Regions from separate parts of the Homo sapiens genome. Here all the other regions are reported to be linked to region 2. The links are microRNA targets in miRTarBase. Many come from high-throughput screens and were not tested one by one. Region 2 holds a microRNA gene; each other region holds the end of a gene's coding sequence.
What was found. Region 2 holds the annotated microRNA hsa-miR-29a-3p (UAGCACCAUCUGAAAUCGGUUA, at 1,883-1,904, opposite strand). A microRNA usually pairs through its seed, bases 2 to 8, with sites in the 3' UTR of a target mRNA and lowers its output. Matches are read on the target gene's strand: a 7mer-m8 pairs with bases 2 to 8, a 7mer-A1 pairs with bases 2 to 7 and ends in A, and an 8mer does both.

Region 1 (3,118 bases), not on the chromosome of region 2:
AACTTTTCAGCCTCCATTGTGTATTTTTGGTGCAATACTCTGTGCAACTATTTCATCCAAGACCAGAAGGGGCTGGAAGATTGCCTGCTTCACATTAAAACCCTCCTTATTGTATTGGTGCTGACACGACACAAGGATATGCAGTCTTTATCCAGTCCTTATTGCTCACAGAAAGATACCAGTCCTTACTGCTCACAGAAAGTAGTGAAGCCTCCCTTCACTCACAGAGCCCACACAGGTATGCCCTGGTTTATGTAATGAATGGGCTGCTACAAATAGGTGTGATGCATGCCTTTGTGAATCACTTTATATTTTGAAGACACATTAGAGGAGCTGGCTATTTCAAAGAAATTTCACAAGTGCCTCATTTCTTAATGTCACAAGCATTTCTGATTTATAATCATAACCCCTTTCTAATGTATTAGCTTATGAAGTTCCATTTTTTGCCTAAGAGGTTTAATCAAAGCAAGATAAAACTATGCTTAATAATATTCAGTTACCTGAAAGAGCTATTGCAGAAATGCCTAATATATTACCAGAAAGTAGCTTAATGTCTCAAATAAATGTCAAGTTGTCCAAATCAAACTGATAGGCAGCTTAATGAGGGATAAATGTCATAATTATCCATATTTCTCCACATTTTTTTTAGAAAAAAACATTCACACAATGAAGGGAATCAGAATCTGTTTTTATATCCCTAGAGTTATAAACATTTGTATCAAAATATTTACAATTATAGTATATGAAATAATCTATTAACGAAGAAGCCCAATACAGTACTAGAACAATCCACCAGAGTAATGCAAATTACATGAGACATAAATGTCACAGAAAAAAAGTAAAAGATAAGGGAATACATGGTTTACTCCAGTCATAGTTCAACTTCTTAACAAAATGTGAGTATTCCCTTTGGATATGTCTGAAATGTAAGTATGTTTTTTGCACTAAGACAGCCTTCTATAATCATGTGATAATGAAATCATAATGACAAAGTTCATCTTCCCACAGTTTTTGCTGGCCAATCTCTCTAACCTCAGCCTAGGTAATTTGGTGGCTTGCCCTCAACATTTCCTTAACTAGAATAAACATAGAGAAATAGAATTAGTAATAATCCTTTTACATAAATACCAAAAATCATGGCATAACAACTCCCCAAAAAGGAAAGGTATAAAAGAAATGGATGAGGAGAAAGCTAATAAAGAAAAGTAGGCAAGATGTCTCAGATTCTCCCTGGGGTAGATCTTCTCAGGGCGATAAAGAAAACGTCTTCCCAAAAAACCCCTTTAGACAGAATCTGAGATGGCTTAAAATAGCTGCTCCAGGGCAAAGCAATGCCTGCTTAACCAGGAATAACATACTACTTCTAAGTCCTGTATAGAGGTGCTCCTGCGGCAGCAGACAGCTCGTCTACCATCTGACTAGGTACCACAAGAGTTTTTGCTTTTTTATTTTAAAGAAAAGATCTGCCCATCACCTATATTTTTATTTATCTCATGGGATTTTCGTATTTTCCTGGGAATGCAGGCACTCTGTTCTTATCATGGCTGAAATACGGTAGGCTTAATACTTCACAATTATATAGCACCTTTCACCCAAGGGCCTGTTGTTTGGTTTTGGTTTATGTGTGTTTTAATCAGCTTCCAGAATTGCCATGCCTCACCTGTGAAGTGGGATAGGCAGGGTCCCCAAGAGGTGATCACTCCAGGTGGTGTCTAAGCCAGAGCTACCACTGAGCCTAGGAGCCCTGATCCTCAATATTGATAATTAGACAAAACTTCCTCAAAAATGTTAGAGGAAGAGTAATAGGATTGTGCTACAATGAGCCATGTCCATCTCTCTCCTGTTGTATACTTAAAAGAAACACTGACTGCATTGAGGGGAATCCTAAAAACATAACCCTAACATGGCACTGTTGCAAGACTGCCCCTTGGATCCCATAGTTTGTGTGGTACTTTTACCACCGAATTGTTCACTAGTGACTTTAGAGAAACTCCAGAAGAGCTGCCTTGGCTTTCAGCAAGAGGCCTAGCAAAGACCATGGCATGAGGTCTCCATGAGGGACAGCCGTGTGTGAGGTCTCGACTGGGCTCTGACCATCCCCCAGGTTTTCCATTGTGAAAAGGTCTCCTTCTTGGTTTAGCTAACCCACCAGCATGACCTTACAAACTCTCTTTCCTCCTCCCATTTTGTCACTGAATTCCACAGAGCTAAATATCTGTTCCAAAGAGGGACAATGGCTCACAGGCCAAAGCCCCCCAGTAGGCACTTCAGACTGGAATGTGATGTTTTGCTTTGGGTCAGAAGGGCAGGATGGCTTCCAGGCTTAGCGTATTCAGCACAAAGACAGTATCTGCTCTTGCCAGAACTTGTACCGCTATTTTAACTCAGTGCAGTAGGTCTGTGGACCTCAGTGCATGACCCAGAAGTGGGGCTGGTGTTGTGGCAGCTGATGGGGCCCCAGACAGTGTGTGTCACTAAGAACAGCTGGAGGCCAAGTCTGGTGGCTGCAGGGAGGCTCTCTGGACCCCATCAAGGGAGCATCAAAGTACTAGCCAACTACTTTCTCCCCAGGGCAGGGGCTTGGCAGTAGAGAATCCCCTCAGTAATGGTTTGGGATTTGACCTCCCCCCTTTGCTTCCCCCTCCCCCCTCCCCTATCTCGGTTTTTCCTGTACAGCAACCTCCACTTCCCTCCCAGATTCAACGGCTTCCTCCTCCCCACCCCCCAGATCCCCATGAACTCGTCCGGCCTTATTTCTTTCTCAGGACCAGATAGAGAACGCCGATGATGAAGCTGAAGCAGAAGCAGATCCAGCCCAGGATGTAGGAATAGCCGTGGTGATACTGCGTTCCATCACGATTCGCATAATGACTAGTGTAGATGGACACCCCCACAAGAATGCACAGCCCTGCAGGGGAAAAGGAGATTTGTCGGTGTGTTTTCTTACATTAAAGTCGAGAAAAAGTTTTACTAATTTTAAGAAGATCCTATTTCCCTCATTAGCAATAGGAAAATGAATTCTGCTTGTTTGTCCCTAAACAGGAGTTCTGATGGATGTCCCCTGGGCCAAGCTCGACGGTATGTTGATAAATTAGAGGTGTCTGGGCTCTCATGTCTG
Region 2 (3,118 bases):
AATGCTAAGCATGTGGGAGTTGTCTCCTACTGCTCAAGGTCATTGCCAAGGTCTGATGGCAAAAATTCAAAAAATTGCAACCTCAAGCATAAATGGATTAAATTGAGACAAGTTTAGAAGAGCAGGCTGAACTATTATACTTAGGAGCTACTAAAAATATAAAAAGCAAGATGTCTCAAAAAATATCCCAGGCCAGACCTCTGGTTTGAGGGAAATCAACACATAGGGATGTATTTGGAACCAGGGGAGTAAATAAGATTACTTAGGGAAAACAGCGAATAGGTAAGAAAGCAAAAGACAAGAGTTTTGGGAAAATAATAACCATGGGATAGAAAAAGATGTGGTGGAATGATCCTGATTCTCGTTGGATTTGTGTGGTAGACAGAATGTTTTGGCTACAAATTGCATGTGTTAGCCCCGAGGAGAAAAGGCCTTTTCCAGACAAGTGACAGGCAGGAGGGAAAAGGAGGGAGGCAGTGTGAGAGGGCGGGAAAGCTTAAGCAGGGTAGATAGAATATTAACTCTTGATTGTGAGGCCAGTGGCTTTTCCAGGCCAGAAAGAAAACAGAAGGACAAGGCCCAAATTCCACCAGGTGCCCCTGCAGTTCTCCAGGACGCCACATGGGGACAGCAGGTGGCCGGTCTGTGCAGTACCTGTGTTGGGAGCTGCACACAGGGGCCCCTGGAGGAGGAGCGGCCGAGATGGCTCATTCTTGAGCCTTTTATTTTATTTTATTATTTTTATATTTTATTATTATACTTTAAGTTCTAGCATACATGTGCTTATACCCAAAGGATTATAAATCATGCTGCTATAAAGAGCCTTTTATTTTTGCCTCTTAGTGGACCTAAAAACTCAGTATTGTTTTTGGTCTAATGACTTCACTTCTAGTGAGGTTGTGTTAGTCCGTTTTGCGCTGCTATAAAGACATACCCGAGACTGGGTAATTTATATAGTAAAGAGGTTTATTTGGCTTACAGTTTTGCAGCCGTACAAGCATGGCACTGGTACCTGCTCGGCTCCTGATGAGGCCTCAGGATGTTTTATACATGGTGGAAGGCGGAGAGGGAGCAGACATGTCACATGGCGAGAGAGGGAGCAAGAAAGAAAGAGCAAGAGAGAGGAAGGAGGTGCCAGCTTTTTTAAACAACCGGCTCCCTCTAACTGAGCAGGAACTCGTTAAGTGAGGACATCACCAAGCCATTCACAAGGGATCCGCCCCATCACTCAACCACCCCCACCAGGCCCCACCCCCAATACTGGGGATCACACTTCAACATGAGATTGGAGGGGACAAACATCCAAACCATATCAAAGGTATACTCTAGGATCCTAGTTCAAGTAGCACCTGCTTTTGTTGCTTTGCCTTCTAAACTGAACTGACACATATTAGCACAGTTCTGTCTCAGCCATAGAAACCCAGTTTCTCTGGACCATTTTTCCTTATGTAAGAAAATGACCTGTTTAACCATGGAGGGAACTCCTCAGCCAGCTAAGAGAGGAGAGTTCAGAGATAGCTGGTGCAGCTTCTCATCAACAACAGAATTGACTCCCTCGCTGCTCCTTTCCCATCATCTAAGCCAGTCATCGATTTTCCCCAGGAGTGTTTCTAGGTATCCGTCACCAAAACAAAACCCCCACCAAGTCTATGGAATTTCTATAAAGTATAACCATTCATGATATGCTAATAGTGAACCATTTGTTAGTATTATACCACATGCAATTCAGGTCAGTGAAATTCAACTTAGAAACTGGAAGAAGAAAAATCACCTTTGCATTATTGCTTTGCATTTGTTTTCTTAGTTCTTGTCCATGGCCCCAACGGTCACCAATACATTTCCTCTCAGCAGTCAGCATCATGGTGCTCTTCCCCAATCATTATAACCGATTTCAGATGGTGCTAGAAAATTATATTGACTCTGAACACCAAAAGAAATCAGTCATCCTCTAAGGGGTCACAGAAGGTCGTGAGGGTTGGGAGGGCCCAAATCTTACTAAATCCAGCATACATTGGGCTCTTTAACCCAGGCACAATGGAATGAGTCTGTACTATCTATTAAGTGCTATAGGTTTATTCCACAAAGAAGTATAAAATTCCAACAATGCGATATCCTGTACAATTACATTCATCCCTTGGTATCCTTGAGGGATTGGTTCCAGAAAGCCCCTTGGATACCAAAATCCACAGATGCTCAAGTCTCTGATAGAAAATGGTGTAGTATTTGCATACAACCTACACACATCCTCCCGTATACTTTAAATCGTCTCTAGATTACTTAGAATACTTAATGCAATGCAAATGTATGCAAATAATTGTTATGCAGTATTGTTAGAGAATAATGACAAGAAGAAAGTCTGTTCATGTTCAATACAGACACAACTTATTTTTGGAAAACTTTCGATCACAGTTGGATCCGCCAGTGCAGAGACCTGACTGCCATTTGTGATATATGCCACCACTGTTGGCAGGGGTGAGGAAGGGGTCAGCTACATGTGAGGCAGGTTCTCACAGCCATCCTGCTGTTGCTTTCAAATACTTCAGAGCTGTCCCATTCACTTCTTTTGCTGTTGGTAGTGCAGCGCAGCTGGTCTCCCCCAAGAACACTGATTTCAAATGGTGCTAGACAATCACTATTTAAATCTAAACCACCATATGAAACCAGCTTCCTGAAGAAGCTTTATGATCTATTTTTTTCTTCATAATGCTCTCTTACAATAAACCCAAGACAACCTAGAAAGGAAAAGTTGAAACCTAGCTGTGAGTTACTCAGTGGTCTAAACAGAGCTTTGGCAAATTTCATATATTCATAAACTGATGTCACTGAATTTGTTATTGATGGGAGAGCATGCCTGGGACTCCCTTATTCTTAAGTTAAGTTGCCCAGACAAAGGTTCAGCTTCATCATTTAGAGGCAAGGGCACATGTCAGCCCCGTCACTCTTGGGTGGGAAGACAAGGAAAATCCTTTGCTTGGGTAAAGGCAGGAGAAGTCAGAGGCATCCTGTGATCAAGTACCCAGGCAGGCGGAGGACGACTAGCAGTGGTGCTGGAGAACCGTCCGTCGGACATGCAAATAGGACAAAGCAAGCAAGTGCTCCATAGAAGTTGAAGAAAAAC
Region 3 (3,118 bases), not on the chromosome of region 2:
CCCCTACTCCTTCCACCCCTGCAAACCCCGAAGTTGTATGGAAGCCCCACCCAGATAGGGCCAAGCTATAGAGGCATGATCAATGTCTCCACCTCATCTGACATGGACCATAACTCTGCTGTACCAGGTAGCCAGGTATCTAGCAATGTAGGTGATGTCATGTCATTTTCAGTGACTGTCACTACCATCCCTGCTAGCCAAGCTATGAATCCCAGCAGCCATGGCCAGACCATTCCTGTTCAGGCGTTCTCCGAAGAGAACAGCATAGAGGGCACGCCTTCGAAATGTTACTGCCGCTTGAAAGCCATGATCATGTGCAAAGGCTGTGGCGCTTTCTGCCATGATGATTGCATCGGCCCCTCCAAACTGTGCGTCTCCTGCCTTGTCGTTCGGTAATGAGACTAGAAAGAGATACACTGTAAAGGAGGGGGAAGGGAAGGGTTGACCAGTTGGGTTTTTTGCGTCCTTTTGGAATCACAGAAATAAACAAGTAGGTTTCAGTTGTCTTCAGAGACAAATGTTACTTAATCAGGAATACAAAGTACAGATTTTTTACATTTTAGAGGAAGAGCACCTTGTATAGTAAGTCTAAGTCAAGCAAGACTTTGTGAATTTGTGACAAGTTTGCACTTACAAAATCATGTAAATATGTCACATTTTGTTTAACATTATTTTTCCAAGTGTTTAGGTAATAATGTATTACTTTGAATTCAGATTAATGTTCTACTACTTGTGACTGAGAAAAGTTTAATGCCGGCATGGTAAAAGGAAGCTGTCTCCCTTCTGACATTTCCTAGGAAGCTAGGAAAAGGAAAGTGAAGGAATGGTCTAAAGAAATGACCATTCACACTGATTTTGTCTGGACAGTCTGGCCGCAGGTTATTCATAGATTATTCAGCCTTTGCAGGACTTGGATTCAGGGTTTTACTCAGTCCCTTTACCTTAGGTGGAATCTTCTTAAATTGAAATTTTTGGTAAGGAATTCATTTCACAGGTAGTGTTTCAGACTCTGAAAGCCCTGACTTGGTTCTTGGCTTCTACTGTACTAGTTACTAGTTACTGGTACTGTTGCCAAGCAATCTGCTTGGAATTTGTGGATCCCTGCTGTTCCCTAATCCCACCCCCTGCCCTGAGACAGTGAATGTAGTCCGTGAAGGGAGTGCCTCTCTGGGACCCCCTGTGTTGTTACAGGCTGTGCAGTGCAACAATTCCAGCAAAAATACCCTATCCCCGCACTTAGTCATTCGTGGTAACTAACAATTTTGAAATACTCATATAAAATGAACAGGAAAGTGTTAGTGATTGGGTGATTTGAGCTACATCTTGTTGAGCAAGGGGAGTGAAACCACAGAAACTGTTAAATTGAACGTAAATAACTTTGGAAAACAGTTTTGACACTAGAACAAGGTCGCTTCTCTTTTCCTCTTCTCTCCCAACCTGTTAACCTAGTGCTAGATAGTCAGCTGCTGTTGCAGGTAGAAAAGCTCACCAATGCCACATTTGTTCATTCTGTTCAACCTGTTTTGACCTCCCAGGCATCTGAACAGGATGACATCATCTTATTATATCTTACTTTACACATACGTGTATGTACACACACACACACAATACAAGACATTTTTCCTGTTTTAGAAAATATAGCCCTTGTTTGGATTACTGCTGTCTGAGCACTAGAAATTTCTAATGGAAAGAGGCCTCTGAATGGCTAAGGGAACATCTGGAAAGGAAGGAAAATGAGCCCTAAAGGTTTTTTGGTTGCTTGTTTTTGTTTCTTTTTCTTTCTTGTTTCCTTTTTTGTTTTTAAATCCTTCTCTAGTGACTGAAGAAATTGTGAGTACATAATATTTAGGTCATGGTTAAGGAACATTAAAATAAACCTGCAGTTTAACAGAATTTTGTATTAAATGGGGGAGTGTCAATTTGCATCATTTGCATATTGATTTCAAGTCTCCTAATTTGGAATGGGTAAAGTACAAATGTTAATGCAACATAGTACAGTTGTATTTGTCCTTCATATTCAGGATGTGATATTTACAAAATGCAGAACAGTTTAAACTTGTTAAGTCACATTCCAGATTAGGAGAAAATGGGCAATAATCATCTCTGTTTTGCCCCCATTCTACTACCCACCACTGCCCACCCCACCCCCACATCACACACTCTTCGATGCTTTCCCACAGCCCCTGCTCCGCTCCTCTCCGTAAGAAACTCACTTCACTGTTTTTCACTTTTCACTTCTGGCTTTTTTGTGGCCCAAGGCCAATATAGGATTAATATCTGTGTTCCAGCTTCAGCCAGAACGATATGTCTGTCCATCTTTCTCCTTTCTTCCAGCACACACAGCTAAGAGATAAGAAGGCTGCAAGGATTGGGGATAAGGAGTATATTTTCAAGCCAAGAACCAGTAGAAAACAGAAATAATGGTGCTCCCAAATATTCAGTACCTTGGGCAATCCAGGAAGGGTTTAAAGAGACCTGTTGCTGCATAGAACTCTCCCTGCCCTACCCCTTAACTCCACCTTAGTGCCAGGGCCGAGGGCTGGTCTGCATGCTGGAAGAGGTTGAGAGTTTTGGAATTGATTCCATGCTAAATGTCAGTTACCAGTTTGGATTGATGAAAGTGATTTTTCTGCTTTACCTTTTTCCTGTCAGAAAGGTTTTCCTCTGTGCTACCCTTAACTTAGGGATGAACAGACTATAACTAGGAAAGGAGGAAAGGTATCAGGGATTTTTAAGTCCGTTTAGAGAGCAAACCATATTGTGCCTCTTCATCTTGACCCAGGCTCTTATAGATAGGTCCTAAACATTGCTGTTCACTAGATTATCTTAACAAATAATACTCAGCTAAATATTTGCATTTAGGAATACTCCTAAAACAGATATTGCCAACTAGATACACTGCCTCAATCTTGACCAGACAAGAGAACAGTTAAGTTCTCTCAGTTGGGTAGTAACTTGAATACCAGTCTATTTATCAGTTGGTTTCAACACAGAGGTTTCAAGTGGAAAGCCATTCATCTTAAAAGCTGAACAGAAAAATTAAAAAAAAAAAAAACACATTACAATCTGGCCTTTTAGAAAATGAAGCAGTAGAAACAAAACCTTTATTAGTATGGTA

Region 1: miRTarBase lists EMP1 as a target of hsa-miR-29a-3p. Seed matches in the 3' UTR shown: 7mer-A1 at 1,580-1,586.
Region 3: miRTarBase lists ASXL2 as a target of hsa-miR-29a-3p. Seed matches in the 3' UTR shown: 7mer-m8 at 2,422-2,428.

Annotation. Positions count from the first base shown.
Region 1 is chr12:13,214,324-13,217,441 of GRCh38, reverse strand. EMP1 (epithelial membrane protein 1) reads right to left here. Exons shown (of 5, transcript NM_001423.3): 5 at 1-2,908. The coding sequence ends at 2,751. Among named protein-coding and RNA genes, the nearest start is that of EMP1, 19 kb to the right of the region's middle.
Region 2 is chr7:130,874,866-130,877,983 of GRCh38, forward strand. MIR29A (microRNA 29a) reads right to left here and starts at 1,945; the gene lies at 1,882-1,945. It overlaps MIR29B1 (microRNA 29b-1), which reads right to left and starts at 2,674; the gene lies at 2,594-2,674. It also overlaps a transcript of LINC-PINT not described here. RefSeq lists an enhancer at 405-699 and a silencer at 495-694.
Region 3 is chr2:25,739,307-25,742,424 of GRCh38, reverse strand. ASXL2 (ASXL transcriptional regulator 2) reads left to right here. Exons shown (of 13, transcript NM_018263.6): 13 at 1-3,118. The coding sequence ends at 396. Among named protein-coding and RNA genes, the nearest start is that of DTNB, 67 kb to the right of the region's middle.